Regions from separate parts of the Homo sapiens genome. Here regions 1 and 2 are each linked to region 3. Evidence: fine-mapped expression QTL. A gene starts in region 3. Each other region holds a variant in brackets. All regions are shown on one strand. Distances are from middle to middle. Region 1 has its middle 1.5 kb from the start of BDKRB1. Region 2 has its middle 37 kb from the start of BDKRB2. Region 3 holds the start of BDKRB2 (bradykinin receptor B2).

Region 1 (2,500 bases), 50 kb after region 3:
CAGGAGATTGGTTTACAGTCCTTTGTTGCAGACTTGTATGTACGTTGCATGAGTTTCTAAACCCTGTGATGGGAAGAAAGGTGTGACCGCCAACAGCCTTGGTCGGGGGTGAAAGGACACGAGCTGGACCACAGTGAGGGTGCTGCATTTCATCCTGGCAAGAATTCTGCCCAGCTGTGGCTTTCTGTCCTCCGTCTACAATTGGGAGAATACTGGAGACATCAGATGTCGTGTAAGGACTAAGAACGAACCCTGGAGAGGCTCAGCATCTGGGTGCTATTTGTAGAGGTCTGCTGGGTGACATGTACTAGAGTCTTTCATTTTGAAGAACCTGCTGGATATGACTAGAAAAGTAAAGGAGAAAAAAACTCCAGGACTGATGGATGAGAGAACTGAAAAGTGGCCCTTGATGTCACAGTGGGCACTGGGACTGCATGTCCCCAGGGGCTGCAAACTCCAGAGCTCACCTTCCCTTGAATACACATCCAGTATGGCCCAAGCCCACGCATACTACAGGGAGTCCAGCCTGCCTGGAGTGCCCCCTCACTAGTATTTAGGACACCCCAGGGAAGGTTGGCCTGTCCTCTATTTCCAGAGGCAGGCCTTTATCCTCTGTGACCACCTCTTCACCCAAGTACCCAGGGGACTTCATCAAGCACAGCACACATCAGACTGTAAGGTTTAACCAAACCTTATAGAGGCTGTGGGAATTACAAACAACTAAATTCAGAAAAGGCAAGCATTGGCCGGGCACGGTGTCTCACGCCTGTAATCCCAGCACTTTGGGAGGCCAAGGTGGGTGGATCACCTGAGGTCGGGAGTTTGAGACCAGCCTAACCAACATGGAGAAACCCCGTCTCTACTAAAAATACAAAATTAGCTGGGTGTGGTGGTGTGTGCCTGTAATCCCAGCTACTCGGGAGGCTGAGGCAGGAGAATCGCTTGAACCCAGGAGGCGAAGGTTGCAGTGAGCCGAGATCGCTCCATTGCACTCCAGCCTGAGCAACAAGAGCGAAACTCAGTCTCAAAAAAAAAAGAAAAAAGGCAAGCGAAGCCTCAGAAGAGGGTCCTCAGTGCCTACCCACTTCTTAGTCCCCTGCTATCTTCTGCCACACTATAGGGACCTGCTTTTCTTTCACAGATTTGGGGTCCCCTCCCCCTGCCCTCAGCCCCACTCCCTTGGCCCCAGAGACAGTAGGAGACCCTCTGCTCCCCTGAGCCCGGGCCTGTCTCGCATTTCCCGTGGAGATGAGCAACAAGGGGAAACGTGGGTCTTCTTAAAGAACTTTCCTTTCCGCCCTCCACCACCTTGGCAAGGCAGCCAGATGCATCTCCGAAGTCCAGCTCACTCAGGCCAGCTCTCTTCACAGACTGTCTTCCAGCAAGAGGCAAAGCAGAGATGAGACCTGCACGTGCTCTTTGTGGCAGAGCTGGCCTTATACGCACTCCTGGGTGAATAAACAGGGAGACATCTCCTAAGAACAAACGCTTCTCAGAAACAGTATAGTCTAAACTCATACTGAA[G/T]GGAGAATAAGCCAGCCACGGGCTGGAGAGACCCCCGCCTACATTACTAAGTAACAGGAAAGGCTAAGATTTGGAGCCTTCCTCCGGTTCAGATCTATCCCGGGAGTAATGGAAGATGCTTGCCTGTTGACAATTTTTTTTTATTAAAAATCCCACCCAGGAGGTCTCTCCTGATAGGAGGGGACCATCCTATCCTCTAAGGCAAATTCCAGCTTCTTCCCTGAAATGTACATCCGCTACTGAGCCTCAGAATGCTATTTGTTCCACCTACTTCCACAGTTTTAAGGTCTTCAGCAACAGGAGAAGACAGCAGGAAAACTTGAAGTGCAGTTGGCTCCCGCTGAGATGTCACTAGCAGAAAAAGGGAACACAAGCAAAAGGCAAGATTCTAAAGACAGAGGTGACACCTTCTGCTCCAAACATTTGGAGGGTCACCTTTCCAGAAGTCAGACTCGAAGTCCTGAATTCTGGCATGAATGAGTTCTCCTACGTGTAGGGGGTGGCCTGGAAAGATCTTAATTTGTAAGTTGACAGGTAAGGGGCCTTCAGTTGGAGAATCTTGTCACCTGATTCTCAAAGCCAAAAATATCTTACTGTCTGAAACATGAGGTCTTGAGTAGTTCAACTTGACCCATGCAGACATAATTTGAGAGACGCCAAGGAGGATTAGGAAAAAATGTATCTGGTCTTACTCAACTCTGAACATTGCATGAGTCAAACGTTTTCCTAGCTCTCTGTTTGTGTGATGGGTCCACTCTGATGGATTCTTGGCGATGTATCTTTCATGACCAAAATTCAAAAGAGGCCATTCGAAGTGGCTCCCACAAAAGCTGCTGCAGAGCCCCAGACATTCAGAAGCCAATAGTGAAGGGGCCAAAAGCCATCCCTCAATGTTCACTGACACTTTGCGAGCCTTGGGGCAAGTTGGCGATGTCAAAACATGTTTTTAGGGCGTGTTTGCCAACATACAGGTCTT
Region 2 (2,843 bases), 36 kb before region 3:
AGGTTGCAAGAGTCAGGGAAATCTCTGCTGACTGCAGGCCCACGTCATGAAAGTCTCTCTATCACACATGCCCACACACCTGGCCACCCCCTAGTGCCAGGTCAGAGTCCCTCTGTGAGTGCCCACTTGCATTGTGCCTATGACTGCCACTGGGCCACCCACCACACCATGTCATCATGGCCAGTTCACTTCCCTGCCTCCCTGTTCAGTCTCTGGGATCCTCAAGGCCAGGTACTGCATGCTAATCATCTCAGACACCCCACCACCTCGCTCAAGCCTCAACAAAAATTGGCGTTGGGTGGAAGAGAACTGGATGGACACTTCTGGAGTCTGACATTGTGCCAGGCTCTGAGGGTACAAGTTGACTAAGACCTGCAGCCTGCTCACAGGGTGCTCAAGGGCTCAGTGAGATGGGTGTTCTAAGAGGCAGTGAGGTCCTCATCCCTGGAGGTAGGGAGGTGGGCTGGGCCCCAGCTTGGCAGGAAACTGAGAAGGGTGATCAAGCTCCCATGGGTGAGGGTCTAGATGGTTTCAGTGTCCCTCTGGCCCTTGGATTCCCTGACTTCTGAGATCTTGGTCCTGTAAGACACTGGCTCCAAAACATTCAGCTGCCTCTCCACAGTCTTCCAGTTGCTAATGAGCAGTCCATGACCAGAGGGAGGTAAACAAGAGCTGAGTCACCCTGTGGAATCCCCGAGTAGAAGTCACCTCCCTTCTTAATAGCCATTATAAACACATTACCAGCAGCTCTGTTTATTTGCTGTTTGGAGTTTATGTAGCTGCACGGAATGTAATATGGAGGATGAGCTACAAACATCTGACCACCCCACATTTAGCCATCTTTGTGTCTGGTCTGTATGTCATTCCACATTCAACATCCTTGTGCTGGCCAAGAAGAAGAGGTGGGCGGGCTACTGCCAGCCCCACCAGGGGAGCCCTCATGGGCCTCACCATCAACTAAATGGTGTCCTCATCTCATGGGAAGCTGAAGGACCCTTTGGGCTGAACCCCGGGGAGCCACAGTTTTCAGCACCTGTCTCATGCTGTTTTCTCTGATCTTCGACTGCCATCAATCCCTCAGCAAGGCTGGGTTCCTCTCTCCTGGCACTACAAAAATAAATCCATGGCCGGGGGCGGTGGCTCATGCCTATAATCCCAGCACTTTGGGAGGCCGAGGTAGGTGGATCACCTGAGGTCAGGAGTTCAAGACCAGCCTGACTAACATGGAGAAACCCCATCTCTACTAAAAATACAAAATTAGCTGGGCGTGGTGGCGCATGCCTGTAATCCCAGCTATTCTGGAGGCTGAGATGGGAGAATCACTTGAACCAGGAGGCAGAGTTTGCAGTGAGCCAAGTTCGCATCATTGCACTCCAGCCTGGGCAACAAGAATGAAACTCCATCTCAAAAAAAAAAAAAAAAAAAAAAGATCAGCCAGGCACGGTGGCTCATGCTCGTAATCCCAGCACTTTGGGAGACCGAGCTAGGTGGATCATGAGGTCAGATCGAGACCATCCTTGTAAAACCCTGTCTCTACTAAAAAATA[C/CA]AAAAAATTAGCCAGGTGTGGTGCACGCACCTGTAGTCCCAGCTACTCAGGAGGCTGAGGCAGGAGAATCGCTTGAAACAGGAGGCGGAGGTTGCAGTGAGCCAAGATCATGCCACTGCGCTCCAGCCTGGGTGACAGAGCAAGACTCCATCTCAAAAAAAAAAAAAATCCGTAAATTGCTGGGGACCCATAGCATGTATCAGATGAACTTGTTGTTTCTGGTTTTCTCAAAAATTGAGCTTTAAAATTCCATTTCACAGATCAGGAAGCAGAGACCAAGTAGGGTAAAGGATTTTCCTAGGGCCCCAGTTGGCCACAGGCCATCCCGGCTCTAGGTGGCAGGCTCTTTTCCTGCCACTCTGATCCTTCCAAACCTGTTACCCTTCCAGGGTTCCGAATTTTAGCTGATAGCATCAACCTCCACATGGTCTTCATCCCCACTGTATGTGGTAGAATTGGCTTGAACTCCATGCGTCAGAAATCCAGCTCCAGTGGCTTAACCAAGGAGGGATCTCTGTGTTATGTGGCAAAATATCTGGAGGTAGGCAGTCTGGAGCTTTGCACCTGTGTGAGAAAGCCACTAAGAGCTCAGCTTCCTCATTATATCCTGTTCCACCCTCCTTACCTCAAAACTCTCTTCCTCATGATCACAAGAGAGATGCTCTACCTCCAGACATTGCAACAACTTTCCAAGCAGGAAGAAAGGTTTATGTCACCTGAATTTTTCCCTTTTATATAGGAAACAGCAGCTTTGCCTGGTGGATTTCTGTTTACGTTGCATCGTCACAACTGGGCTACTTGACCACCTTTAATTGCAAGGCACCTAGGAAGGTGAGCAGTAACTAATCACATTGCTTCCCTGAACAAAGCTGAGTTTCTGCTGGGAAGAAAGAGAAGAATGGATATTGGATCAGCAATCAGCTGCCTGTGCCTGCCACACCCACTTCCTACATTTACCCAGCCTCTGAGTCCCATGCAGTCTAACTACTCAGTTTCTTGAAATCCACTTTTCTTTTTCTTGCCAAGATTATGCCCCAGTGCAGCCCCCTCTAACCCTGCTGTCTGCGAGGCACAGTGGGGTGACTGGCTGCTGTCCACTCCCACCCTGCCACTATCAATCTTTCCAAAGCACAGAGCATGTGGCTTCCCTGTTCTCAAATCCGCAGTTCCTCTCCATTGCTTATTAAAGACATCCAGATTCCTCAAGCTGACACTGACGTCCCTTTACACTCCAGCCCTAACCTAATTCTTCCCTTGCCTCCTAGAACTCCCGATGTCCAGCCACCCCACTATCTCC
Region 3 (2,843 bases):
CTAGTGGCCCAGAGTGTGAGAACCTGGTAAGAGAAAGGGCCAGAATGTGAACTTAATCAGCTGCTCATGAACTGGCTGGCCTCCAGCCAGGACCTCAAAACTGGTTTAAAGTAGCCTTTTTAAAAAACTATATGACAGAGATGGATGGAGATGTGTGCAGATGGACAGATGTCTTTTAGAGATTTCTGTCAATGATATTTACAGAAGCATCAACATTGGATTCAGATCCTTGAGGATTTTCAACTCATAGATACAGAGCTCTACAATATCTAAGTTGGAAGAGACTTCAGAGGGTCTCTGGACGCTCATGCAGGTCTCAATATGTTGTGGATCTCAGAGCTCTTCAATATTTTAGTGAAAGCTATAGATGAGGCTCCATAGGGGATAAAGCACAGACACACCTTTTCAGAGGGCTTGTGGACTCTGGGCAGCCTGTCCATAGACCTCTGTCCCCAACTGGCAAGTCAGGAAACTCCAGATTAAGGAGCCCCAATGTGGTTGAACAGCCAGGTGCACAGATGAGTCAACCACACAGCCAGGCCAGGGAGGGCCTTCACTCAAGAGCCTACAGCCAGTTCACAGCCAAGCCAGGGCTAGCGCCCAGGCCACCCATAAACTGATCTGAGACTCTGTTTCCCTGTCTCCATGATGATGGGATCAGGCTTGATTGCTGGTTTGTAGGCTTGTTATGAATCAAGTCACAGGGAAGAGGAGCTGATGGGCTGGGGGGACGTCCTCTGGCCCTCCTGTCTCTTCCCCAGATCCACTGGGCCCACTCTTATCTGTTCTCTTCTGAAGGAAGGGTTTTAAGGCTTCAAAAAAAAATGTTTTGAAAGTCCCTGCCCTTTCCAGCTCCTACCGTCTCAGCCCTGGGAGTGTAAAGTGCTGCAGATAGTTAGTAAGTCTTTGAGCAAAACTGAGAAAGCCAGCCTGAGCCTTGACATGGGAGAAACCTCCGCCATACATCTCCGAAGAAACGGCCGCGTGTCTCAGGGGAGCGCAAACACCCGTACCCAGGAAACAGGACAGCTTCTGCCACTGTCGCCCTTGGGAGCCGTACGTGGCATACAAAGAAATCCCAGGACTCCGCCTGCCCACCTGGCCACCCTCTGTTTACACCTTCCGCGTAAACGCCCACTGTTTACATCCAAAACTCAGACACAAAATAACCACCTCAAGAAGATAAATAATGATAAGAAATAAATGTTACGCGAGGCAAATTTATTCACATGGGGCTTCCCAGGCCACTTTGTGGTCAGCCGGGAGGGACGTTTTTGCCGTCCCACGACTCCAACGGGCAGCCGGGCTACGCAAACATGGAAATCTTCCAAGAGCCTCCCTGGCCCCCAGGGCTCAGAGGGTGGCAGAGCGGAGAGCGAAGGTGGCCGCAGCCTTCCCGGCCCCACAGCCAGCCTGGCTCCAGCTGGGCAGGAGTGCAGAGCTCAGCTGGAGGCGGAGGGGGAAGTGCCCAGGAGGCTGATGACATCACTACCCAGCCCTTGAAAGATGAGCTGTTCCCGCCGCCACTCCAGCTCTGGCTTCTGGGCTCCGAGGAGGGGTGGGGACGGTGGGGACGGTGGGGACATCAGGCTGCCCCGCAGTACCAGGGAGCGACTGAAGTGCCCATGCCGCTTGCTCCGGAGAAGGTGGGTGCCGGGCAGGGGCTGCTCCAGCCGCCTCACCTCTGCTGGGAGGACAAACTGTCCCAGCACAGAGGGAGGGAGGGAGGGCAGGCAGCGGGGAGAAGTTTCCCTGTGGTCGTGGGGAGTTGGGAAAAGTTCCCTTCCTTCCGGAGGGGAGGTCTGACAGGCGATGGGGAGAAGGGTTCCCAGCAGGAGGAATCGCCCTGTTTGTCTGTTGTAGGTTTCTCTTCTCTGAATCAAGGTGACAGACAGGCTTGTGTGTGTCCAGTGTGTGAGGGATTTCGTGATTGGATTTTCACATACTTTGAGTGGACACCTTGGAGTAAGGCAGCGAGGTGTGTGTGGTGCAGCAGGGACGGGTGCTGGGTGGAGGCTCCAGAACCTGGCTTTTCACCCACAGCTGTGCCACTCCTTGGCCCTGTGTGACCCTGGACAAGCTATTCAACCTCTCTGAGCCTCAGTTTCTCTGTCTGCAAAGCAGCCAGCTCGCTGGCTCCCTGGGGGTGGCAGGGTTAAATCAGAAGCAGGCGGGGGTGGGGGGGTTTGTGAATGTTGGCTGATGCGCCTCCAGGAGGCAGGTGGTAGTGACTACCTCAGATGGGCTTAGAGACCCTCTTCCCACGGTCCTGGCTGACCAGGGCAGGGGGATAGGATGGTGCAGGGGTTCCAAGCACCGGCTTTGCATCCGGCCCAGGTTGCAGCTCCAGCCCTGCTCTCACCCTGTGGGTGACGTTTTTGGGCGAGTTATTTTGTCCTGTCTCCTGAGCTATAAAGAAGACCTGGAAGTTCCTCTTTATGCAAAGATAGAGGTAGGCTCTTGCCTGTGAAGCACCACGTATGTCATAGGCACTAAATAAATGGCAGCCGTGATTCGAGTTGCTGAGAGTAGGTCGTTTCCGCAGCCTGGGTGGAGGTGAACAGCAGGTGTTGCTGTTCCAGGCAGGTCAGAATGTGCCTCACTGAGTCACAGGCCGCCTGTGGCTCCCCAGCCTACAGGAAGTGGGAGCCCTGGCCTGGGTGTGGGGTGATGGGGGCCTCCCTGGCCAACCCCGCCCCTAATTCCATTTCTGAGTTGGAGAAGGGCTTAGGTGGTGGGGGAACAGGTAAGCAACCCCAGAGGACATTGCAAAGAGGCCCTGCCCGAGGTTCTCTGGAGAAAAAACTGTGCTGCGTCCTTCGGGCCCTGGCAGCAGCAAGAGA

Evidence for each region. PIP is the estimated chance that this variant, and not a neighbour inherited with it, causes the effect.
Region 1: its variant is the best candidate, but not a certain one, in a credible set for the expression of BDKRB2 in esophagus mucosa (GTEx, PIP 0.76).
Region 2: its variant is the best candidate, but not a certain one, in a credible set for the expression of BDKRB2 in fibroblasts (GTEx, PIP 0.53).

Annotation. Positions count from the first base shown.
Region 1 is chr14:96,253,493-96,255,992 of GRCh38, forward strand. No RefSeq gene overlaps it. Among named protein-coding and RNA genes, the nearest start is that of BDKRB1, 1.5 kb to the right of the region's middle. RefSeq lists an enhancer at 1-213. The variant G/T (reference allele first, on the strand shown) is at 1,525.
Region 2 is chr14:96,166,904-96,169,746 of GRCh38, forward strand. No RefSeq gene overlaps it. Among named protein-coding and RNA genes, the nearest start is that of BDKRB2, 37 kb to the right of the region's middle. The variant C/CA (reference allele first, on the strand shown) is at 1,547.
Region 3 is chr14:96,203,314-96,206,156 of GRCh38, forward strand. It overlaps BDKRB2 (bradykinin receptor B2), which reads left to right and starts at 1,526. Exons shown (of 3, transcript NM_001379692.1): 1 at 1,526-1,646. RefSeq lists an enhancer at 987-1,862.